Linked DNA regions of Homo sapiens. The protein of the gene in region 1 purifies or fractionates together with the protein of each later gene. This does not show direct contact. Each region holds a gene or a part of one and is shown in the gene's direction. Other genes may lie near its edges. The genes, in order: SNRPA, NCBP1, SNRNP70, PRPF6, SF3A1, HNRNPC and RNPS1.

What was found.
Region 2: the proteins of SNRPA (region 1) and NCBP1 purify together in Homo sapiens (co-immunoprecipitation; 2 studies listed by BioGRID and IntAct, with this or other methods). This does not show direct contact.
Region 3: the proteins of SNRPA (region 1) and SNRNP70 purify together in Homo sapiens (affinity purification with mass spectrometry; 5 studies listed by BioGRID and IntAct, with this or other methods). This does not show direct contact.
Region 4: the proteins of SNRPA (region 1) and PRPF6 purify together in Homo sapiens (affinity purification with mass spectrometry; 2 studies listed by BioGRID and IntAct, with this or other methods). This does not show direct contact.
Region 5: the proteins of SNRPA (region 1) and SF3A1 fractionate together in Homo sapiens (co-fractionation; 3 studies listed by BioGRID and IntAct, with this or other methods). This does not show direct contact.
Region 6: the proteins of SNRPA (region 1) and HNRNPC purify together in Homo sapiens (affinity purification with mass spectrometry; 2 studies listed by BioGRID and IntAct, with this or other methods). This does not show direct contact.
Region 7: the proteins of SNRPA (region 1) and RNPS1 purify together in Homo sapiens (co-immunoprecipitation; 4 studies listed by BioGRID and IntAct, with this or other methods). This does not show direct contact.

Annotation. Positions count from the first base shown.
Region 1 is NC_000019.10:40,757,703-40,761,202, forward strand, and holds part of SNRPA (U1 small nuclear ribonucleoprotein A), read left to right. Parts: intron 1-1,728; coding exon 1,729-1,908; intron 1,909-3,500. UniProt on the Homo sapiens protein: Component of the spliceosomal U1 snRNP, which is essential for recognition of the pre-mRNA 5' splice-site and the subsequent assembly of the spliceosome. U1 snRNP is the first snRNP to interact with pre-mRNA.
Region 2 is NC_000009.12:97,657,821-97,661,320, forward strand, and holds part of NCBP1 (nuclear cap-binding protein subunit 1), read left to right. Parts: intron 1-819; coding exon 820-923; intron 924-3,125; coding exon 3,126-3,248; intron 3,249-3,500. UniProt on the Homo sapiens protein: Component of the cap-binding complex (CBC), which binds cotranscriptionally to the 5'-cap of pre-mRNAs and is involved in various processes such as pre-mRNA splicing, translation regulation, nonsense-mediated mRNA decay, RNA-mediated gene silencing (RNAi) by microRNAs (miRNAs) and mRNA export.
Region 3 is NC_000019.10:49,105,778-49,109,104, forward strand, and holds the end of SNRNP70 (U1 small nuclear ribonucleoprotein 70 kDa), read left to right. Parts: intron 1-1,847; coding exon 1,848-1,935; intron 1,936-2,017; coding exon 2,018-2,666; 3' UTR 2,667-2,827; downstream 2,828-3,327. UniProt on the Homo sapiens protein: Component of the spliceosomal U1 snRNP, which is essential for recognition of the pre-mRNA 5' splice-site and the subsequent assembly of the spliceosome. SNRNP70 binds to the loop I region of U1-snRNA.
Region 4 is NC_000020.11:63,994,632-63,998,131, forward strand, and holds part of PRPF6 (pre-mRNA-processing factor 6), read left to right. Parts: intron 1-284; coding exon 285-461; intron 462-695; coding exon 696-851; intron 852-3,500. UniProt on the Homo sapiens protein: Involved in pre-mRNA splicing as component of the U4/U6-U5 tri-snRNP complex, one of the building blocks of the spliceosome.
Region 5 is NC_000022.11:30,350,395-30,353,894, reverse strand, and holds part of SF3A1 (splicing factor 3A subunit 1), read left to right. Parts: intron 1-822; coding exon 823-944; intron 945-3,500. UniProt on the Homo sapiens protein: Component of the 17S U2 SnRNP complex of the spliceosome, a large ribonucleoprotein complex that removes introns from transcribed pre-mRNAs.
Region 6 is NC_000014.9:21,262,943-21,266,442, reverse strand, and holds part of HNRNPC (heterogeneous nuclear ribonucleoproteins C1/C2), read left to right. Parts: exon of another isoform or gene 1-50; intron 51-894; exon of another isoform or gene 895-3,106; 5' UTR 3,107-3,132; exon of another isoform or gene 3,133-3,500. UniProt on the Homo sapiens protein: Binds pre-mRNA and nucleates the assembly of 40S hnRNP particles. Interacts with poly-U tracts in the 3'-UTR or 5'-UTR of mRNA and modulates the stability and the level of translation of bound mRNA molecules. Single HNRNPC tetramers bind 230-240 nucleotides.
Region 7 is NC_000016.10:2,255,374-2,258,126, reverse strand, and holds part of RNPS1 (RNA-binding protein with serine-rich domain 1), read left to right. Parts: intron 1-2,400; coding exon 2,401-2,542; intron 2,543-2,753. UniProt on the Homo sapiens protein: Part of pre- and post-splicing multiprotein mRNP complexes. Auxiliary component of the splicing-dependent multiprotein exon junction complex (EJC) deposited at splice junction on mRNAs.

The DNA of each region.
Region 1 (3,500 bases):
GAGGCCGAGGCAGGTGGATTACCTGAGCTCAGGAGTTTGCAGCCAGCCTGGGCAACACCGTGAAACCCTGTCTCTACTAAAATACAAAAATTAGCTCGGTGTGGCAGCATGCACCTGTAGTCCCAGCTACTCCTGTGGCTGAGGAAGGAGAATTGCTTGAACCCGGGAGGCAGAGATTGCAGTGAGCCGAGATCCTGCCACTGCACTCCAGCCTAGGCAACAGAGTGAGACTCTGTCTCAGAAAAAATAAATAAATAAATAAATAAATAAATAAATTATTTTGAGACAGAATCTTCCTCTGTTGCCCAGGCTGGAGTGCAGTGGTGCAATCTTGGCTCACTGCAACCTCCACCTCCCGGGTTCAAGTGATTCTCCTGCCTCAGCCTCCTGAGTAGCTGGGATTACAGGCACGTGCCACCATACCTGGCTGATTTTTTTATTTTTAGTAGAGACGGGGTTTCGCCATGTTGCCCAGGCTGGTCTCAAACTCCTGAGCTCAAGTGATCTGCCTGCCTCAGCCTCCCAAAGTGCTAGGATTACAGGCGTGAGCTACTGTGCCACACTAAGAATCTTTAACATACCTTCCCCTACTGAATAAGCACCATGAAAGAGGGGTTTTTGTCTATTTTGTTCATTGCTTTATTCCCAGAGCCTTGAATGGCGCCTGGCATCTGGCAGGTTCTCCTTAAACAGCTAAGTGAGTGAGATTGAACCTGGAAGACTGAAGTATTCTTGTGTGACAGGAAATCCCCCTGCACTGCACTCCTCTCCTAGCATTGTCTCCTCGGTCCTTTGGCCTGATGTTTATTGCTGTTCCAGCTTCCCTTAAAAATACCAACAGCCTTTCTACTGAACACTTGCTTACTGTGTGTCAGGTACTGTTCCAAGCACTTTAACTCATTTAGTCCTCACAACAGTCCTTTGAAGTGGGAAGTATCATAATCCCCATTTTTCAGACAAGGAAGTTAAGGCCAAGATATTTCTGTGTTTCTCAGTAAGCTCCTGATAAGGTCTGAATTTTTTTTTGTTTGTTTGTTTTTTGTTTTTTGTTTTTTGCTCTGTTGCCTGGGCTGGAGTGCAGTGGTGCCATCTCAGCTGACTGCAACCTTCGCCTCCTGGGTTCAAGCGATTCTTCTGCCTCAGCCTCTTGAGTAGCTGGGACTACAGGTGCGCACCACCATGCCCAGCTAATTTTTGTATTTTTGGTAGAAATGGGGTTTCCTGGCCAGGCGCAGTGGCTCATGCCTGTAATCCCAGCACTTTCGGAGGCCGAGGTGGGTGGATCACCTGAGGTCAGGAGTTCGAGACCAGCCTGGCCAACATGGTGAAACCCTGTCTCTACTAAAAGCACAAAAATTAGCCAGGCGTGGTGGTGGGCGCCTGTAATCCCAGCTAGTAGGGAGGCTGAGGCAGAATTGCTTGAACCCGGGAGGCAGAGGTTGCAGTCAGCTGAGATCTCATCACTGCACTCTAGCCTGGGTGACAGAGCAAGACAATGTCTCAAAAAAAAAAAAAAAAGAAAAGAAACAAAGAAATGGGGTTTTGCCATGTTGGCCAAGCTGGTCTCCACCTCCTGGCCTCAAGTGATCTGCTCGCTTTAGCCTCCCAAAGGGCTGGGATTACAGGCATGAGCCGCAGCACCTGGCCCCTGATAAAGGTCCAATTTTGAATCTTGGCAATTGGGCTCTGAATCCACGCTCTTAACCCGTTCTGCTCTCTGTTTGGTAGCGTATCCAGTATGCCAAGACCGACTCAGATATCATTGCCAAGATGAAAGGCACCTTCGTGGAGCGGGACCGCAAGCGGGAGAAGAGGAAGCCCAAGAGCCAGGAGACCCCGGCCACCAAGAAGGCTGTGCAAGGCGGGGGAGCCACCCCCGTGGTGGGGGCTGTCCAGGGGCCTGTCCCGGTAAGCCAGGTCCCGGAGACCAACCCTCCCACTGCCAGACCTTCCTCAGCCACATGGACTGGCTTTGGGACAGGGTGGGGAGAGTTCTCCCCTTGGGGCTTCAGACCCCTCCTTTCCATTTCTTTATAGAGATGTGTTTCTCTCTCTCTTTTGGGGGGTATTGAGCACCTAGATGATGCTATCTCCTTTCGAAACTCTTGTTCCCTCCTTGTGACTGTTTCTCAAGGTCTTTCTTCATGGCTATGACTTGGTTTCGCTCTCTCCGTGGCCTTGATTTTGTCGCCTGTGTCTTGTAACTCATTGTGCATGTAGAAAATCCAAGTGTCTACTAAGCAACTGTTAGGATTAATAAGTGAACTTAAATTTAGAAAGATCGCTGGATATAAAGGCAATATGGAAAAAAATTAGTTTTATTTATTTATTCATATTATGTTTTGAGACAGGGTCTCACTGTCACCCAGGTTGGAGTGCAGTGGCGCCATCACAGCTCACTACAACCTCCGCCTCCCAGGCTCAAGTGATACGCCTCAGCCTCCCTAGCAGCTGGAACTGTCAGTCCGTGCCACTCCACCCAGCTAACTTTTGCATTTTTTGTAGAGACGGGGCTTAGCCATATCACCCAGGCTAGTCTCAAACTCACTGTCTCAGCCTCCCAAAGTGCTAGGATTACATGCATGAGCCACCATGGCTGGCCCCCAGTTTTATTTTTATATGCCAGTAACAGACCAGTAGACTTCACATTGAAAAGTAGCACTGAGGGGTAAATCCAACAAAAGGTTTGCAGAACGACTACACTGAAATCACAGAATGTAGCTGGGAGAAATCAGAGACTCAGCAATGGATAGGAAGACTCAGTATTGTCAAGAGGTCAGTTCCATCCAAATTAATTGAAGATTCAACGTGATTGCAATCAAAATCCCACCAGGAATTTCGGTAAACACTGGACACTGATTGGCTCTTTCTAAATGTGTGGAAAGACAAGGCCAAGCCAGGCGAGGAGAATAAAGCACCAGGACCTGCATGACCAGGGGAAGCTCCAGCAACCAGGCCAGGCCCAATGGCTCATGCCTGTAATCCCAGCACTTTGGGAGGCCAAGATAGGAGGATTGCTTTAGGTCAGGAGTTCAAGACCAGCCTCTATAAAATAGCAAGACCTCATCTCTACAAAAAATAAAATAGAAAACTGGGCGTGGTGACTCATTCCTGTAGTCCCAGCTGCTCAGGAGGCTGAGCTGGGAGGATCGCTTGAGAACTGGAGGTCAAGGCTGCAGTGAACAGTGGTTTTGTCACTGCACTCCAGCCTGGGTAACAGAGTGAGACCTTGTCTCTTTTTTGTTTTGTTTTGTTTTCTTTTGTTTTTTTTCGGGAGGGAGTCTCAGTCAATCTGTCTCCCCAGGCTGGAATGCAGTCGTGCAATCTCGGCTCACTGCAACCTCTGCCTCTCAAGTTCAAGTGATCTTCTGCCTCAGCCTCCCAAGTAGCTGGATCACAGGCACATGCCACCACGTCCATGTGCAAAAAAAAAAAAAAAACCTGCAGCAACCAACCAGGATGATATACAGTTGGCAGAAGGGTAGGAAGACAGACCAAGG
Region 2 (3,500 bases), on another chromosome or scaffold:
CTATGAGGATTATTTATTTTGATGCCCAAATTGTCCCTGGTATGTACATGAGGAGCCCCGGTAAGCTCTCTCTCTCTCTCTCTCTCTATATATATATATATATATATTTTTTTTTTTTTTTTTAACGTCCCCAGCCATTCATTGAGCATTCCCTTATTTTCTAGAACAACATATTTAGGATCATCTTGCGTTTTCTTGCCCTATCACTGGAATCATCTATTTATTCATGGAGCCCTAGTTTCTAGTAAAGTAGTAATGGAATATGGTATTTAGGAGCCAAGATCTGGGCACTTGATATGCTCATTGCCATTGGGGTGTCATTGGTTCTAAGCCTCTTGGTGGACACACATCCATCCATCCATAACTGTTTTTATGTCCACCTGTGTGTATATATGCCTCCAATTCCAACTCAATACCTTATTTCTACACTTCTTCTCTACCATGATTTGTAAACACCTTCTCAGGCAGTAACAAACTTGGCTTCCATTATCCTCAATATTTATTTATTTGATAGAATATAGCCAGTTTCCAAAGCGTGCAGTCATCTCCACCATGCCCCATCATCACCCCACATACTTGGCCACCAGGCTCATGAGCTCACTCACCCGCACCTCAGTGCAAGCCAGTGAGTTTTGCAGTATGCCTGAGATTTGGTGTGCTGGCTTAGACAAAAACTCAAAGGATTTTTTTTTCCCTTTCACTTCTTGGTTGTCAGCTGAGTTCAAGTTGTTGGAGATCATGACTTTCCAGGTAAGTCGGGTGTTACCGAAGAATGGGACTGATAAAAGATATTTTCTGAGGCTGTTATTTGTATTGTAGGTTGTCTTACCATCAGCGTATATTAGATATTGTTCCTCCTACCTTCTCAGCTCTGTGTCCTGCAAACCCAACCTGCATTTACAAGTATGGAGATGAAAGTAGCAGTAAGTAATGAAACTAATCCCTCTGTCTTTAAAAGGTACCAGTTCAAGTATATCTGAAGTTAGTTGTTTAAAGTGGAGAAATTGAACTTTTTCTTTTCTTGGGGTTTATATTTCCTGTATTTGAAAGGTGGTCTATCATTAGCCACTGTTTTATTTGCCCTGTCATCATTTTGAGGATTTGGTTGTGATAAAATTAATTACTACTGGCTTATCATTTTTTCTCTTTTGAATGTGTTAAGTATAGCAAGATGAATTTATAGTTAGAACTTACTAAACTGAAAACGTGTATTTGTCATGGTGATGGAGGTTACTTGAATTCATTATCTTGTTCAGGTGTGGTATTGAGAACATAGATGCACATATTTGTGGCAGTATGCCTTTAAAAGTAAATTCTTAATTATGATTTTCTTACCTTTTGGTCACATAATCTCTGAAATTGCACCATAAATCAGGGAGTGTAATTTGATGTGCCATTTTGCCCTTTGCATAGTATTTACACTTAATGAAGGTAAAGTATTATACATTGTTGATCACTGGTAGAGTTAGGTGTGGAGTTTTTCCAACTTGTTCTTTGCAGATTACACTTAACACAGCCCCTCCATGATCCTTCCATTTTGTGTTGTGTAGAGGTTCTTTGTATCTCACAACTTTCTGCTGTTCTTTGCTTTTCATACTGTGTGCCTGTTTCTCCACCTCTGTCTCTGACTGTACCTGTTTTCCTTGAAATGAACTGTGTCGGTCCTGGTACATTTCCTATTTCATTATGTCAACTCTGAAGAATAGATATGATTATCAAAACTACAATGAGGAAATGACTTCCAAGAGGTCAAGCTAGAATGAGATTGCTTTTGAGTGGTGGAGCCCAAATTCAGGCGTAGGTGCACTAACTGAGTGGCCATGCTGTTAGCCACTGTGCTTTTTGGCAGATCAAAGGTTTATGCAGTACTTAGAAGTGCTGGGTTTTGAGTTTTGTCCTGTACTGGTTCCGAGAATGATAAGGTGTAGTCTTTGCTATCAGAAAGCTCAGGCTTTTGTTGAAGATTAAGCTTTCTTTTTGCCCCATAGGAATAACTCCGCCTAACATTCAAGGCCTTCATAACCATTGTTCCTACTTTGTTATTTTTCACTTCTCCCCACATGGACCTCTATTTCTGCCAGGTCCATGTACTTTTTTATTTTTTCCATACTCCCTGTTCTTGACTTTGCCATTACCCCAGTCTGGAAAGCCCTTTCTAGCTCCACTTCCTTTTCTCCTTCTAGATTCTAGCCCAAGCTCAATAGCTGTAAATATTTTTTAACCGTTAGCAAGCCAGTTTTGTATTGCTTCCTGGCTGTGTCTAATGTGAATATCTTGGTTCCCCAGCTAGAATGTAGACTGGTGACAGGGGATTCTGTTTTTCTTCGCCTTCTTTTTTTTAGAGAAAAAGCTCACAGCAGGTGTAATATGACTGTCCTCACATGACTGTTGTAATTTACTTTATTCATTCCAGTAACTCATACTCTATAACAGGATTGCCTTTTTTGTTACCTCTTTGTCTACCTTACATTAAAAGCAGATTTCTTGTTGCTCTGGTGATGCCTTACGGTGTATATTAGCACAAATTTTTATAATAAGGACTCAACTGATACCAACCAATAGTAAATACAAGGAGTCCCATCACGTGAGCATCTGACTTACGTAGATTCAAGCTTGTGGACTCAGCAAAAAAGAAAAGTACAAAAACAAAACCTCTCTGAAGTTGGCAGCCATTACCTTGTTGAGACTCAGACTTCATTTCCACGGTCCCGAGGAAAGAAAGAGGAAGTGGGTGTTGGCAAAATGAAAGAGAAGTACGTTGGTTCTGGGATTTTGAGCCCAGGAGAGTTGAGGGCATTAAAAGACAGTTTAACTGTGTCCACTTTTCTCCTTACCATTCATCTTGAGGATGATCAGCACCTTGTGCTCTAAATTTTACTTAGCTAAGTGTCCTTAATGAATTGTTGAAATGAGAATTGTCCCTTTTTAGGTGAAAAACCATTAACCTATTAGAAAAAGCTTTCACATACGGTATTTATATGTGATTAAATATTGACCTTGGGATAAAGAGCATCCTATTTTGAAAGGAAGAATTTAAAAAAAATTTTTCTCAGTTATTTAACTGTTCATTAGAATAGTCTTGAAACCTGATCTGTCATTCCCCTTACCCCCAATTCTGTGTTTAGATTCTCTTCCTGGACATTCTGTTGCCCTCTGTTTAGCTGTTGCCTTTAAAAGTAAGGCAACCAATGATGAAATCTTCAGCATTCTGAAAGATGTACCAAATCCTAACCAGGATGATGACGACGGTAAGTGGAATTCAGTATTTCTTAAGTGGAACTATGTATAGGCCAACTTAAAGCATAAACATAACTCTGGCAACATGATGCTCTTAAAGCAATATATCTATATCTGTTTGACCTGTTCAGACTGTTGTTCTTAGCACCCCAGGTATTTTCCCCTTATATAAAAAGAGATCCTAACATTTCTGTGATATAGCTTACTTAAGAATATAAACTTCATCGTAAATACAAAGTGAAATATGTTACCATTCAAGGATT
Region 3 (3,327 bases), 8.3 Mb from region 1:
TGTGACAGCCCACAGCTTGCTTCTGCCTCGTTTGCCTCCATGCAGCTAGGTCGGTCCCATGCCTCTTTGCACTGGCCCAGCGCAGCAGGCCACAGGCCCCAGCTTTACACTCAGTCCTGGATGAGTCTCTTGTTTCGGGGTGGGCACATTTGATTGACTCAGTGTTGGGCCTGGGGTCCTGTTGCTCAGGCATGCTTATTGAGGACTGAATCCTGCAAAGCTGAGTGACAGTTGTCAGAGAAGATGATGGTCCCTGGGCAGACACCCAGGCAGTAGTAGCCACTTGGGGCTCCTGTCCTGCCTCCCAGCCCTGTGTCCTGGCTCTGGACTCGCCTGTGCTAGGGAGACCACGCTCTCAGCTGCTGAGCCTCGGAGCTTACCAGGCATGTTCTTACCTTACTCTGGTCTCTCTGGGGTGGAGTGGGTTCTTATAGCTCTGCTGTTTCCTGTTGGGGCGGGAAAATGCTAGAATCTCAGTCTTTCCAGAATCTCAGAATCTTCTAGTTCAATTGCCATTCAAACTTTTTGTTGGTGTTAGCCAATAACATCTTGACTCGGTGCACCCGCAGAAATACTGTAACCTAAAGTTTGAGGAAACAGTTTTTTCTATGTAGTAAGTATATAGTTGTATTCTGCTGTTTTGTTTCTTAAGATGTTGGTTGCAACCCATCAGATTGATGATGGGACTCATTTCTGGGTCATGACCTGAATATAGGAAAGGCTAGTCTAGCTGCCCTGTGCCTGTGACATGGCAGGTGCCTGGTCCGCTGCCTGCTTCTATAAGAATGTCTCCCTGCAGCCTCTTTTCTATACAGAACTCAGCCCTGCCTCACGGAAGCTTTTCCAGGCAGTGCGAGATAGAGGAGCGCTTGAGAAGGCAGGTTTTGCAGCAGACGGCAGTGACAGCCCAGTTCTGCACCTTCTTTGCTGAGTCACTGTGGGCCAGTGACTTGATCTGAGATTGTTTCCCCATCAGAACCATGAGGTTATCATCTGTGCCTTGGGGCTGTTCATCTATCTATTCACTTGACACACACACATCCACCTTTCTATACCAGCTGCAGCGCCACCTGCTGGTACCGTGAGCAAGAGCTGGGCATGCCCACGGTTCCGGTGCCCTGCAGTCTGGTGGGAGAGGCAGGTAGGGGTCGACTCAGGTAGCAAACCTGAAACTCCAGGGGAAGGAAGCGTTTCTGCAACTGTGAGTACATAGGACTGTGAGGAGAGACTTCCCGAGAAAGGATGTTCGGGCTAGCGTTAAGGGTGAGCGTGAGTTCACCAGAGAAGGAAGGGGAGACCAGTCCAGGGCAAGGAGAATGCACAGACACTGGCAGGAAGGTGAGCGTGGGGACACTGGGAAAGGCCTGGGACACGCAGCCAAGAGCCGCGGCTCAGACGCTAGCAGGGCCCGCTCTTGCTGCCTCTACCACCAGTTGACGAGGAGTTTGGACCTTAGGCTGGGGGACGCCAGCAAAGGCTTCTAAGCAGATCACATTTTTGGGTGGAAAGATCATTGGCTTCGGGTTTCTGTGAGGGCGAGGATGATTGGAAGGGAGGGTTTTGAGGAGGCTGTGAAGTGCGCTATGGTTAAGATGATGCGCTTTGGGGCCAGACATGGGTTCCAGTAACGGCTGTTGCCTAGCGAACGCTTTGTGTGAGTTAATTAGAGAAGACGTGGCTGTCTTGTGATGGGAGTGCGCGGGATGAACTGCACGGGGGGACCCGGCCCTGTGAACACTAAGCCAGGGGCTGCCTTCCTGCCCTTTGCTCTTGGAGTCGGCTCATTTCTGCTCCTCCGGGCCCTGTCCCTGCCCAGATTCACCCTCTGTCCGTCTGCCCTGCCCCAGGAGGAGGCCTCGGTGGTACCAGAAGAGGAGGGGCTGATGTGAACATCCGGCATTCAGGCCGCGATGACACCTCCCGCTACGATGAGAGGTAAGATTGGGCGACCGGTGTCCTGGGGTGGGGGGCGGTCACGGGGGGAGCCCAGCCACACAGGTCTGCCCACCTCATCCAGGCCCGGCCCCTCCCCGCTTCCGCACAGGGACCGGGACCGGGACCGTGAGCGGGAGCGCAGAGAGCGGAGCCGGGAGCGAGACAAGGAGCGAGAACGGCGACGCTCCCGCTCCCGGGACCGGCGGAGGCGCTCACGGAGTCGCGACAAGGAGGAGCGGAGGCGCTCCAGGGAGCGGAGCAAGGACAAGGACCGGGACCGGAAGCGGCGAAGCAGCCGGAGTCGGGAGCGGGCCCGGCGGGAGCGGGAGCGCAAGGAGGAGCTGCGTGGCGGCGGTGGCGACATGGCGGAGCCCTCCGAGGCGGGTGACGCGCCCCCTGATGATGGGCCTCCAGGGGAGCTCGGGCCTGACGGCCCTGACGGTCCAGAGGAAAAGGGCCGGGATCGTGACCGGGAGCGACGGCGGAGCCACCGGAGCGAGCGCGAGCGGCGCCGGGACCGGGATCGTGACCGTGACCGTGACCGCGAGCACAAACGGGGGGAGCGGGGCAGTGAGCGGGGCAGGGATGAGGCCCGAGGTGGGGGCGGTGGCCAGGACAACGGGCTGGAGGGTCTGGGCAACGACAGCCGAGACATGTACATGGAGTCTGAGGGCGGCGACGGCTACCTGGCTCCGGAGAATGGGTATTTGATGGAGGCTGCGCCGGAGTGAAGAGGTCGTCCTCTCCATCTGCTGTGTTTGGACGCGTTCCTGCCCAGCCCCTTGCTGTCATCCCCTCCCCCAACCTTGGCCACTTGAGTTTGTCCTCCAAGGGTAGGTGTCTCATTTGTTCTGGCCCCTTGGATTTAAAAATAAAATTAATTTCCTGTTGATAGTGGGCACCTCGGTTTCTTCCTCACTGCTCTGTTTTCCCCAGAAGGTTGTTCCTGACTTGATAGCCCTGCTTGGTTTGGTTTCCAGGGTGTACTTAAAACTTGAGCGTTAGGACATGAGGCTGGCTCTGCCCAGTAGCCAGAGCTGTTGAAAGTGGGGTGAGGCGGCCTCTCGGGCTCCTTGTCTCCCTTGTGTTTTTCACCCTTTTTTCTTTTTCATCTCTGCCACACATTCCTCAGGGCTGACCATACCCCTGTCTTGGTGGGGGGCTGGGAATTAGGAGGGGGCTTGATTACTCAGGGGAAGCCGCAGTTTTGAATATGCAAGGGAAGCTACCATCTGCAAGGGAGAGCGGCACACAGGGTGAGGAAAGGCAGAATACACTGGGCACGGGTGAGACGGGGCAGAGCAGGAAGGGTGGACCCACATCATAATAAGTAGTGACAGAGGAGCAACGAGCAGAAACACAGAAGAGGTTCCACCAGCAATTGAGATTTCA
Region 4 (3,500 bases), on another chromosome or scaffold:
ATGGTGGCCCACGCTTGTGGTCCCAGCAACTTGAGAAGCTGAAGTGGGAGGATCACTTGAGCCTGGGAGGTTGAGGCTGCAGTGAGCTGTGATTGTGCCACTGAATCCAGCCTGGGCAACAGAATGAGACCCATCTCAAAACAAAAGTAAAAAACAGTTGCTGCATCCAAATCCCTTCTAAAGCTTGGTGATCTGGAGGCTAGGGGTGAGAGAGGGCATGGTCCTACCTGGGCACATGAAATTCTGTCAGAGAATTAATGTTTTTGGGGGCTGGATATTTCCAGAGGAAGTTGGCAGAAGTCACAGAAGAAGAGTGGCTGAGCATCCCCGAGGTTGGCGATGCCAGAAATAAACGTCAGCGGAACCCACGCTATGAGAAGCTGACCCCTGTTCCTGACAGTTTCTTTGCCAAACATTTACAGACCGGAGAGAACCATACCTCAGTGGATCCCCGACAAACTGTGAGCTTCCAAAAAAGGGCACATGTGGCCCATTTAGTCCTGTTAGATCAGTGGCAGGAATGGTGGGTGGTGTTGGATTCAATGCTTCTGCAGGTCATGGCTATGCTGTGGCCGAGTCTGTCTGCACAGCTGTGCATATGTCAGGCCACTGGGGAAGTATTTCAGAGAGTAAATTTCTTGGGCATGCAGTGCAAACCGTTGTTTTATTCTTGCCTTTCCTCTCTTCCCCTCCAGCAATTTGGAGGTCTTAACACACCCTATCCAGGTGGACTAAACACTCCATACCCAGGTGGAATGACGCCAGGACTGATGACACCTGGCACAGGTGAGCTGGACATGAGGAAGATTGGCCAAGCGAGGAACACTCTGATGGACATGAGGCTGAGCCAGGTGAGTTTGTCACACAGCATTTTCCTGTGGACAGGTTTAGACAGTTTAATTTTGTTTTGTTTTCTTTTTCTCCTTCTTCTTCTTCTCCTTTTTCTTCTCCTCCTTCTCCTCCTCCTCCTTCTTCTCCTTCTCCTTTTTTTTTTTTTGGCTTGATTTTTGCCTGAATAATTCCGCAGATTTTTAAAATTTTGACCCAGAGTCTTGCTGTGTCACTCAGAGGCTGGAGTGCAATGGTGTGATCTTGGCTCACTGCAACCTCCACCTCCTGGGTTCAAGTGATTCTCCTACCTCAGCCTCCTGAGTAGCTGGGATTACAGGTGCCCACCACCACACCCGGCTAATTTTTGTATTTTTTGTAGAGACGGGGTTTTACCATGTTGGCCAGGCTGGTCTTGAACTCCTGACCTCAGGTGATCTGTCTGCCTTGGCCTCCCAAAATGCGGGGATTACAGGTGTGAGCCACTGCACTTGGCCTTTTTTTAAAATATAAAATAATAATTTTTTAAAAAGTGTGTTTTTTTCCTGCCTCTCAGTAAATTGTCTTGTGGCCCTGCATGGAACGTGTACTTTGATCTGGAGACTAGGTGCTCTAGACACCAGTGAAGTACAGAACTCTTTCTGATATGCATATCAGATACCACGAAGGAACATACTACTTTTGGCCTGGCCAACATGGTGAAACCCCGTCTCTACTAAAAATACAGAAATTGGCCAGGTGTGGTGGCGGGCGCCTGTAATCCCAGCTACTTGGGAGGCTAAGGCAGGAGAATTGCTTGAACCCGGGCGTTGGAGGTTGCAGTGAGCCGAGATTGCACCAGTGCACTCCGGCCTGGGCAACAGAGTGAGACTGTCTCAAAATAAAAAACAAAAACAAAAACAAAAAGTGGCACAATCATGGCTGGCTACATACAGCCTTGACCTCCCTGGGCTAAGGCGATCCTTCCACCTCAGCCTGCCAAGTAGCTGAGATTACAGGCATGTGCCACCATACCCAACTAATTTTTGTATTTTTTGTTGAGATGGGGTGTCACTAGGTTGCCCAACCTGGGCTGGAGCTCCTGGGCACAAGTGATCTGTCCGCGCTGGCCTCACAAAGTGCTGGGATTACAGGTGTGAACTACCATGCCCAGCCTGAAATTTGTTTACATAGAAATTGTAAAACTTTTTGGGCCAGGCACTCATGCCTGTAATCCTAGCACTTTGAGAGACCAAGGTAGGAGGATTGCTTGAGGTCAGGAGTTCAAGACCAGCCTGGGCAACATGGTGATGGTGAGACTCTGTCTCTACAAAAACTAAAAGAAATAGCTGGGCCTGGTGGTGCCTGTAGTCCCAGCTGTTCGAGAGGCTGAGGTGGAAGGATTGCTTGAGCTAGGGAGTTTGAGGCTGCCATGAGCTATGATCGCGCCTCTGCACACCAGCCTGGGTTACGGAGTGAGACTGTCTCAATAAATAAATAAAACTGTCACAGTAATTTTTTTGTGGTAAAATATATGTAACACAGAATTTACCATTTTAATCATTCTTGACTGTACATACCTTCACTGACATAATTATGTTCATGTTGTTATACAACCTCATCACCATTCATCTCCAGAACTGTTTTCATCTTCCCAAATTGAAACTCCGTACCTGTTAAACATTGAGTCCCCGTGCGCTTTCTCCCCAGCCCCTGGCATCCACCGTTCTCTCTGTTTCTATAAATGTCACTACTCTCTGGATCTTATATGACTGGAATCATACAGTATTTACCTTACTGTGACAGGCTTATTTCAATTAGCTCATGGTGCAGCATGCGTCAGCATGTTCTTTTTTTTTTTTTTTTTTTTGAGACAGAGTCTCTCTCTGTCACCCAGGCTGGAGTTCAATGGCATGGTCTTGGCTCACTGCAGCCTCCGCCTCTCGGGTTCAAATGATTCTCCCACCTGAGCCTCCCAAGTAGCTGGGACTACAGGTGTGCACCACCAAGCCCAGCTAATTTTTTTTTTTTTTTTTGAGACGGAGCCTGGCACCGTCACCCGAGCTGGAGTGCAGTGGTGTGATCTCGGCTCACTGCAACCTCCACCTCCTGGGTTCAGGTGATTCTCCTGCCTCAGCCTCCCGAGTAGCTGGAACTATAGGCGTGTGCCACCATGTCTGGCTAATTTTTGTATTTTTAGTAGAGACGGGGTTTCATCATGTTGGCCAGGATGGTCTTGATCTCCTGACCTCGTGATCCACTCGCCTCAGCCTCCCAGGATGCTGGGATTAGAAGTGTGATTTTTTTGTATTTTTAGTTAGAGATGGGATTTCACCATGTTGGCCAGGCTGGTCTCGAACTCCTGACCTCCAGTGATCCACGTGGCTCGGCCTCCCAAAGTGCTGGGATTACAGGCATGAGCCCCGGCGCCCCGGCCAGCATGTTCTCAGTTTAAGGCAGGATGAGACTTGACTCTTTGGTGTGTGTGGACCGCATTCGCTCATCTATGTAGACCGCATTCGCTGACCTGTTTATTCGCTGACGGACACTTGGACCACTTTCACCTTTTGACTATTGTGAATAATGCTGCTGTGAATACGGGTGTACAGATATTTGTCAGAGACCCTGCTTTCTATTCTTTCTTTTTTAATAAAAATTTTATTTATTTTTTTTTGAGACGGGGTCTTGCTCTG
Region 5 (3,500 bases), on another chromosome or scaffold:
GGAACATGGTTTCTCAGAATGTAGTCGGAGTCCCTGCATCTGAATCACCTGGGCATTTGGTAATGTAGCAGGACGAGTCGCAGACAAAACTCCTCAGACACCGGATTAAAGAAGGAAGAGGTTTTTTATTCATCCGGGAGCGTCGGCAGACTCGTGTCTTAAGAGCCGAGCTCCCCGAAAAAGAAATTCCTAGCCCTTTAAAGGGCTTACAACTCTAAAGGTCTATGTGAAAGAGTCATAATAGATCAAGTAAGCGTGAGGAACGTGACTGGGGGCTACATACATCAGCTAACAGAACAAAAAGTTTTACAGTGCTTTCTCATACAATGTCTGGAATTTACAGATAACACCAGTAGTTTTGGTCAGGGGTTAATATTATTATTATTTTAACCACCAGGGCCAGGTGGTGGCACCAAGGTCGTCTAGCTATTTATCTTACTTCTGTTTCTTTCCAACTTTTTGCTTTCTCCCTTTTCTCCTGTCTTATAAACTAGGGAAAAGGGGAGGTTGGGGAGAAACTGGGAAGGACAACAGGAGAAGTGCTGGTCTCATACCATAGTAAAAATGCAGATTCCTGGTCTCACTGAGATAGTCCAGTGAGAGAGGAGCCAGGGAAGCTGCTCTTCTCCCTGGGTCCCCAGGAGCAGCCCCTGCAGGTGCAGTGAACTTAAGAGAACTGCTTTTCTGAAGTAGAGGGTTCTAACCTGAGGGAAGTCTGTGAATGAAAGTCTACTCTGAATGATATCCTAGAGGAGTTTTACAGTGGAGAACCTGCTCTGAACCAGGGACTTTAAAACCTTATTTCTTTTCCTGTTTGCACAGCCCACAGAAGAAGAAGCATCTTCAAAGGAGGATTCTGCACCTTCTAAGCCAGTTGTGGGGATTATTTACCCTCCTCCAGAGGTCAGAAATATTGTTGACAAGACTGCCAGCTTTGTGGCCAGGTAACAGAGCTACTTGGGTGGGTCAGAGGTGGGTTTCAGCATGAAGAGACTTCAGCACTGAATCAGCACAAGGGTTTTTAAAGAGACGTTGTTGGCTTGGGCCTTTTAGTTCATAAAAAACCACAACATGGCACTGGGGTAGGCAATAGGTAGGACTGGTGTCCCTGACACAGCATAGCAGTGGCCAAAGTGAGAATCACACTTAGCCCCACAGTCACCAGGAGCCTCTGCTTCTAAAACTGGCCTGAGGAAATGCCTGGAAAGCTGCTTCATCACAGATGGTGTGTGTCTGTGCCTGAGCTGCTGGCCTGAGGAAGATAAAAAGGGGAGTTTATTATTCTCATTGTACAAAGACCACATTCCAAGAGCCTCAAATGACCCATCTGCAAAATGGAAAAAATGCCATCTCAGAGTTGTTGTGAGGCGGGAGTGAGGTCATGGGGCTGCATGCAGTTCAGTTCCACGCGGGTGCTAGTCACCTCCTCAGATGGCATGGGCATTGCTCCGAGTTCCTCCTGTCTCTCCTCACAGTTCCATGCAGGTGCTAGCCGCCACCTCAGATAGAATGGGCATTGTTCCGAGTTCCTCCTGTCTCTCCCCACAGTTCTGTGCAGGTGCTAGCTGGCTTCTCAGATGGAATGGGCATTGGTCAGAGATCCTCTCTCTCCCCACAGTTCCATGCAGGTGCTAGCCGTCTCCTCAGATGGAATGGGTATTGCTCTGAGTTCCTCCTGTCTCTCCCCACAGTCCTGTGCAGGTGCTAGCTGGCTTCTCAGATGGAATGGGCATTGGTCAGAGATCCTCTCTCTTCCTACAGTTCCATGCAGGTGCTAGCCGCCACCTCAGATGGAATGGGAATTGCTCCGGGTTCCTCCTGTCTCTCCCCACAGTTCCACGCAGGTGCTAGCCGCCACCTCAGATGGAATGGGAATTGCTCCGAGTTCCCCCTGTCTCTCCCCACTGTACTTACCCTCACATCCTTAGATGGAATTTTTTTACTGGCCCCTTGACTCCAAAGGTCAGTACATTCTCTAGGGTATTTAAGGTATTCCTTTGGCAGCCCTCAGTCCATGTCCAGCCTACAGATGTTTTGTTTGTCCTCACAGTAATTTTTTCGAAACTCAAATTTGTTGCTACTATTTAAAAATGAGGAGGTCAGGTGCTGTGGCTCTTGCTTGTAATCCTAGCACTTTGGGAGCCCAAGGTGGGAAGATCACTTGAACTCAGGAATTTGAGACTAGCCTGGGCAACATAGTGAGACCCTGTCTACAAAAAATAAAAAGTTATCTGGCTGTGGTGGCATGGGCCTGTGATCCCAGCTACTTAGGAGGCTGAGGCAAGAGGATCGGTTGGGCCCAGAAGGTTGAAGCTATAGTGAGCCATGGACTCTAGCCTGGGTGACAGTGAGACCCTGTCTCAAAAAAAACAAAACAAGTAAAAATGAGATTTCACAATCAGTCTGGATTTCTGGACAGTTCCTTCATGTGTGGAAGCAGGCCCAATCAGCATGTGTTCTCCAGGGACCACGTCACCCCCCTGAGGCAGTGTCTCAGTCAGTATGCATCATTTAACGGATGGTCCTTCCTTTCCCAACCTAATAAAATTAGACATAAAGATTACTTTGGTTAGACTTTCTTTTTTTTTTTTTTAAATGACATGGAGTCTCACTCTGTTGCCAGGCTGGAGTGCAGTGGTGCAGTCTCAACTCACTGCAACCTCTGCCTCCTGGGTTCAAGTGATTCTCCTGCCTCAGCCTCCCGAGTAGCTGGGACAACAGGCGTGCGCCACCACGCCCAGGTAATTTTTGTATTTTTAGTAGAGACGTGGTTTCACCGTGTTGGCCAGGCTGGTCTCAGTCTCTTGACTTAATGATCCCCCGACCTGGGCCTCCCAAAGTGCTGGGATTACAGGCGTGAGCCACGGCACCAGCCTACTTTGGTTAGACTTTCACTATGTCAGCTCTGCAGATTCATCTCATTACATTTCAAGGGCTTTGATTACCTTTGAGTATTAGGTTGAAAGCTTCTCTGTGCTTGATTGAACATTGTGATGATGTTGATTGGGTCATGTCAGATTTAGACAGTGTTGTGTTTAAGATAAATGTTTAATGGCTCTTAGCAGTGTTCATGCCTCCCCTTTTCCCCTGATACTTTAAAAACAGAATATACAGAAAAGGGGAGTTGGGTGAAGAATCACCATATTCTCATTACCAGAGTAGTGTCTACCAGCTGTTTTCACATTTTTCTGTTTCCTTCTGTCCTTGGAATCCTTTTTTTAGATCCTTGTAATACTAGTAAAGATATTCCACTCTGTGTTGTAAGCATTTTTCCATTTTGCTCCATGGTCTTCATAATGCCCTGTGGTCCTTTATTAAGGGGATGCACCATGTAGAGGTGAAAGGCTTTCCTTGACTTGGCCACCATTTCTGTATTTTCCTTAGAGGAGGAGGTTTCCAACATTTCTTTTTTAGAGACAGAGTCTCGTTCTGACACGCAGGCAGGAGTGCAGTGGCATGATAACAGCTCACTGCAGCCTTGAACTCCTGGGCTCAAGTTA
Region 6 (3,500 bases), on another chromosome or scaffold:
GTACACTGGAAGGTCAGGCATTTTGTTTAAAGAATTGATTCTAAGGCCGGGTGTGGCTGCTCATGCCTGTAATCCCAGCACTTTGGGAGGCTGAGGCGGGTGGATCACGAGGTCAGGAGTTTGAGACCAGCCTGGCCAACATGGTGAAACCCCCATCTCTACTGAAAATAAAATTAGCTTGGCGTGCTGGCGCTCGCCTGTAGTCCCAGCTACTCGGGAGGCTGAGGCAGGAGAATCGCTTGAACCTGGGAGGTGGAGGTTGCAGTGAGCCATCGCACCACTGCACTCCAGCCTGGGCGACAGAGTGAGACCCCATCTCAAAAAAATGATAATAATTGATTCTAAACTGGGGAATAGAGAGATTCCCAATTTAAAATCTTCACAGTGGTTCTCAAACGTTAGCCAACACCAGAATCAATAGGGCTAGTTAAAACAGATTGCTATGATCTCTACCACAAGGGTTTCTAATTAAGTAAGTCTGGGGTGGGCCCTGAGAGTTTGCACTTCTAGTAAGTTCCAGGTGATGATGCTCATGCATCACTCATTCTGAGAGGTGCCCCTTTAGAAGAAGGGATCCAAACCTCAGGCAGGTTTTGACAAAGAATAACCTAGAGATACTTTTTTTCTAAAACTATCTCTGAGCTTTAGGTAAGGATACTTTTTTTCTTTGAGAGCCTCACACTGTCACCCAGATTAGAGTGCAGTAGTGTCATCTCAGCTCACTGCACCCTCTGCCTCCCGGGCTCAAGGGGTGCCCTCAGCCTGCTGAGTAGTGCTGCTAATTTTTTGTATTTTTGGTAGAGGCAGGGTTTCGCCATGTTGCCAGGCTGGCCTTGAATTCCTGAGCTCAGGTGATCCACCCGCCCCAAGCCTCCCAGAGTGCTGGGATTACAGGTGTGAGCCACGCCGCCTGGCCTCAAGGAATATTCTTGATTGAAAATGGTGCTAAAGTTGGTCTTTTTATGAGTGGTAGCTCTTCAGTTTAACATAAATAACATCTTGGGAGATACTGAGCTTTTTGATATTGAAAGATAGAATTGGTTTCTTTTCACATTTTTCTTTATTTTTAAGCTTATGTCTTGTGGCACCTGTACAAAGGACTTGGTTGTGGTTGAGCTATAAAGTTATGTATCTTGAAAATTGATTACCAGGTTTGGGCTGTGGCTCCAAATAAGAAAATGAAATGTTTCACCATAACTGTATTTCATAAACAGGAAAAGAACATTCAGATGTATATTTCTTACAATTCTTCACAAACTTTTTCCGCAATTTGTACATTCATACAGTTTTCACACATCAAATGTAAAAATTAACTGTCATTCCTACACTGTTCTTTTTAAAAATGTATGGTACTTGTTGCTGCTGTAGTCATTCATGTATAGTTGGCTCAAGGAACACTTCTAAAAGCTCAATTAAAAATTTTTTTTTTGAGACAGGGTCTCTCTCTGGCCTGGCTGAAGTGCAGTGGCGTGATCAGAGCTCACTGCAGCCTCGAACTCCTGGGCTCAAGTGATCCTCGCTCCTCAGACTGCTAAGTAGCTGGGATTTCAGGCTACCACACCCTGCTAATGTTTTTTGTTTTTAATAAAGTCTCGTCATGTTTCCCAGGCTGGTCTCAAACTACTGAGCTCAAGCCGTGCTCTACCCTGGCCTCCCAAAGTGTTGGGATTACAGGTGTGAGCCACCACACTTGGCCTTAAAATATTTTAATTTCCTCAAATTTACAAAGGAGAATAAGACCTCATGGCTAAATTGAACAGTGAGTGCAGCTAGTTCATTGTTTGCACAAGGAACTACAGTCTAATTGCAGTTCCTATTTTAGCTGATGAAACAACCAGTTTGTCATGGAAATTATTTTAGTGTGGTATTATGTACCAGATTTTTAGAATCCATAACTTGAAATTAGCTTTACACGCTACATAGTAAATAGTGGACTACAGAAACAAAAGTATTAACATAAGGACCTTAATTTTTTTCACCTATTTTATGACCTTAAATATTCAGTATTTTTTTAATTCCATCTGTATTTTCGTTTTGTCAGTGAGTGGAATAATGTGCTCCTTATTTAAAACATCTTTTCCCCTAACAGTAGAACCTATTAGGTCTTGTGGTTTGATCACTCACTGGTTTTGAGAATAGATGAGTCATCTCTAGTATAGATCTTCATGGTAGGCCATTCACCTTCAGTCTATTACTCATAGCAAAAACTCCACGGACTTTTTTAAGTTTAAAACCCATGAATCTGCTTAGGTTTTATAATCTCAGTATTTGACATTTGCTCACTATTTCATCTCTATTTGTTGGCCCGGTTTTTCTGTATTTTCTTTGCCCAAACTGCTCATTATCAAGATGAACATTTGGGATATACTCTTTTTGAGACCCTCAAGGGCATATTGACATGAATTTAGTTAATTTTAGTCATCTATTGATGTTGAAGAATTGTGAAGACAGTCACTGGTAGAGGTGATTCTATGGAGGCTATCCCATCCCAGTGGAATGTTAATGCTTTACCAAAATGTGTTAGCTGCAGTAGACAGATGTTTCTGTCTTGGGGGTTTAGGGCACAACATTTCTGAGGAACTCTGACTCAATCTGTCCCTTCTCCTTTCACAGGGCAGCAAGGCGAACCCCATCCCTACTCACTGGAGCTCAGCTTTGATTTTTAACCTCCCTTCCCCACCCTTCCAGAACACACACATTCCATTCCAAAACTGATTTTATAAAGACATTTTAAACATAATGATGCAACTTGGTGTGCACTACAGCAAATGTACAGGTGTTTTTTTTTTAATTGTTTCCAAAACCGGGACCTGGATTTAAGATGTAATTTTTAAAATTTCTATTTCTATTTTTTCTGCAGCAGTTGGGTTAGAGGAGGAGGAGCCTTTTAGCCTCTCATAAACTGACCTCTCTACTTCCTCGTGTATTTTTAAGATTGATTGATGATGTGGAAAGGGCTTTGCTTGTCTGCTACTGAAAACTTTATCCTTGCGGTTTTTGTGGAAACTGCTTTTGGAAAGAGAAAAGAAATGAACTTTACTGACTTGACATTTTTGCACCTCCCGTTTTTCTAATCTGGGCTATTTTTATTTTTGTTTTTTTACAGTGAGATTTTTTTGATCTTCAGCTACAGTAAGTTATTCCAATTTTTTTTTAACATTTTTCCTGACTTTCCGCTGATTTCCTTTTTATTGTTGTTACTAGTTACTATTACTTATTATTATTATATTAATACTTATGATGGTGATGATGATGATGATAATGACACTGATGATTTTTAACCGGATTAAAATCGAGTTTTTCTGAATGTTTCTAAGAATTTCTCCGGCCTCCTGATTGACTTTGGAGTTTTGCATCTTGGGAGAGAAAGCGAAGGCATTAGTATTTTTAAGTGGTTTGATCACGTAAACCTTTTCTCTCCCAACCCCACCCTTGCCCTCATCCCCTTCCCCACACTGAAAAGAATTTTACTGGCTGTTAAGTCTATGACCTTATTTTTC
Region 7 (2,753 bases), on another chromosome or scaffold:
TTCTTAAACACTTGTATCTCATAACCACTCATGACGTTTATAGCTATTTGTATCTGGCAGAATGGTTTTAAAAGCACATGGACCCTTGTGAATAGTTTCGGGTGGCATTTTGTCCTCAGTGCAGCATTTTGAGGCATGTGGAGTCATCTCTGCTCCACTCCCTGCTGCTGTGACTGAGGCCGCTGGCACTGAGAACACAGCCCACAGTGCTGTCTGGGCTGCCAGGCCTGGTGGGGAGTGGAGTGTGCGTGCCCCAGAACTTTCCGTCTTCCGAGGCCCTGTTACAAACTGTATAAGTAGCTTAGCTGGTTTTTTTCAGTAATTGCCCTTCAGGCATTAGGAAAGTTTCCTTGATATTTGGCTAACTTTTCTTTCAAGTTTCTTAAGTCCTGAAATGGGTTAGGAGCTCTGTGCGCTCACATCAGCTGTTGGCCTTGTAAGTCACACCTTTGCTGTGGAGTCTGCTGATTATCTGCTGTTTGACAGTCTGAGTGCTTGCTGAGCTAAAAACCCAGGGGACCCGGGTACCTTCTGGGTGGGCGTGATTACAGACATTCCAACTTTTCGTAAGATTCTGGTAGGATTTTTTTTGTGTGTCTCCCCTTCTGTCTTTGAATGGAGTGAGTCCATGCTGTCTCCATAGGAGATGAGAAGGGGTTGGCCTTTACTGGCAGCTACACAGAAGATGGATTTTTCTTCATTATTATAGAGTCAGTGCTGTGAAATCCCTAATTTGGGCTAACTTAGGCTGAGTTTACTGAAGTTAAACCTCTTAAGTATGTTCTGAATACATAGCCACATGCCGGAGTTAGTCCCCATGTGCCTTAAAGGTAGTTGAGAAAACAAAAGAGCCCTTTACCCCTTAGGGCACAGAAGGGGCTGCGCTTGGGCTCCCAGTATCCCCAGCTACCAGACAATTCTTGAGGTCGGGGTGCATGCTCCCCTGGGGTTCCTGGGTTTGCACCTCTATTTCCTTTCCTCTCTCCCTGGAGCCCACATCCCACACTGCCTCTCCTCGCTTCATGCACATGGCGTGTGTTTCAGTGCCATCTACATGCAGAGCCACCTCTCTGAGACTGCTTGTTTCCAAACACAAAGTCTTTGGCATCTCCTAAAATTTCCTTCATGCAGCTTCCCACCGCAGCCCCACCTCTCCGTCAGTGGAAGTTCACACCTCACCACCCCCATCCCATCCATCACCAAGCTCTGGCAATTTTACTTCCCAGCTGTCCCCTGAATCCTTCCGTTTCCCTGCCAAATCATTTGATGTTGATTCAGGCCCCTCTCAGTGCTGCAGAGCCCTCCTAAGAGAACTTCTCCCACTTCTCTTAGCCCCAGACCCAGCTTCCCTTGGTTGGAGGAGAAGGAAGCGCAAACGCGGATACTGCCTGCATGGTCCTGCGAGGAAGCCCCACCCTGGCCCTGGGGCCTTCTGTTTGCCTGTCACTCGCTCTCGATGCTACCTTCTCTCACCAGTGCTTTGGGTCCTTCCCAGCACAGGGCCCAGCATAGCCCTTCTCTTCCACCTAGCAGATTCCAGCACATTCTTTACTTTTCTTTTTTTTTTCTTGAGACGGAGTCTCAGTTGTTGCCCAGGCTAGAGTGCCGTGGCATGATGTCAGCTCACTGCAACCTCCTCCTCCTGGGTTCAAGAGATTGTTTTGCCTCAGCCTCCCGAGTAGCTGCGATTACAGGCACACGCCACCACGCCCGGCTAATTTTTGTATTTTTAGTAGAGATGGGGTTTCACCATGTTAGCCAGGCTGGTCTCGAACTCCTGACATTGTGATCCGCCTGCCTGGCTTCCCAGAGCACTGGGATTACAGGCGTGAGCCTCCGCGTCTGGCCTCCAGCACATTCTTTAGCTCTTGACTTGGATGACTCTTGACCTGGGAGGCTGCCTCGACACGTGGAGATTGGTGTGTCCTGTTAGTTTTTATGCCTCTTTTCCTCATGAAACATTAGTCATGATGTTATTTCTGTGATTATCTTTTTTTTTTTGAGACGGAGTTTCGCTCTTGTTACCCAGGCTGGAGTGTAGTGGCACGATCTCTGCTTACTGCAGCCTCTGCCTCCCGGGTTCACGCCATTCTCCTGCCTCAGCCTCCCGAGTAGCTGGTACTATAGGCGCCCGCCACCTCGCACAGCTGATTTATTGTCTTTTTAGTAGAGACATTTTCACCATGTTAGCCAGGATGGTCTCGATCTCCTGACCTCGTGATCCACCTGCCTCAGCTTCCCAAAGTGCTGGGATTACAGGAGTGAGCCACCATGCCCGGCCCTGTTTCTGTGATTATCTTACATTGTCATTGTCCCCCCAGGCCTGTCTTTCACTGTGGCATGCATTGTCTAGGGTAGATGCTTGTTAGATATTTTATGACTTGCTGTCTTTTTCAACAGGACAAATTGATGGCCAGGAGATCACTGCCACCGCCGTGCTGGCCCCCTGGCCTAGGCCACCCCCCAGGAGATTCAGCCCTCCCAGGAGAATGTTGCCACCACCGCCTATGTGGCGCAGGTCTCCCCCACGGATGAGGAGAAGGTAAACAATTTGTAGTTTCAGTGGACTGATCAGGCCACAAACCTCATGTGACCGCAGTGACTTTCAGACCCTTTATTCAGCCCTGCCTGCCTTCCACTGCTGTGCGGGCTGGCAGAGAGCAGGAGCCCTTCAGAGCTCATGGAGAGAGCAGGAGGGCCACAGCTGCAGTAAGCCACAGGCAGGAGACGCCCTAGAGTTGCACCAACACAGC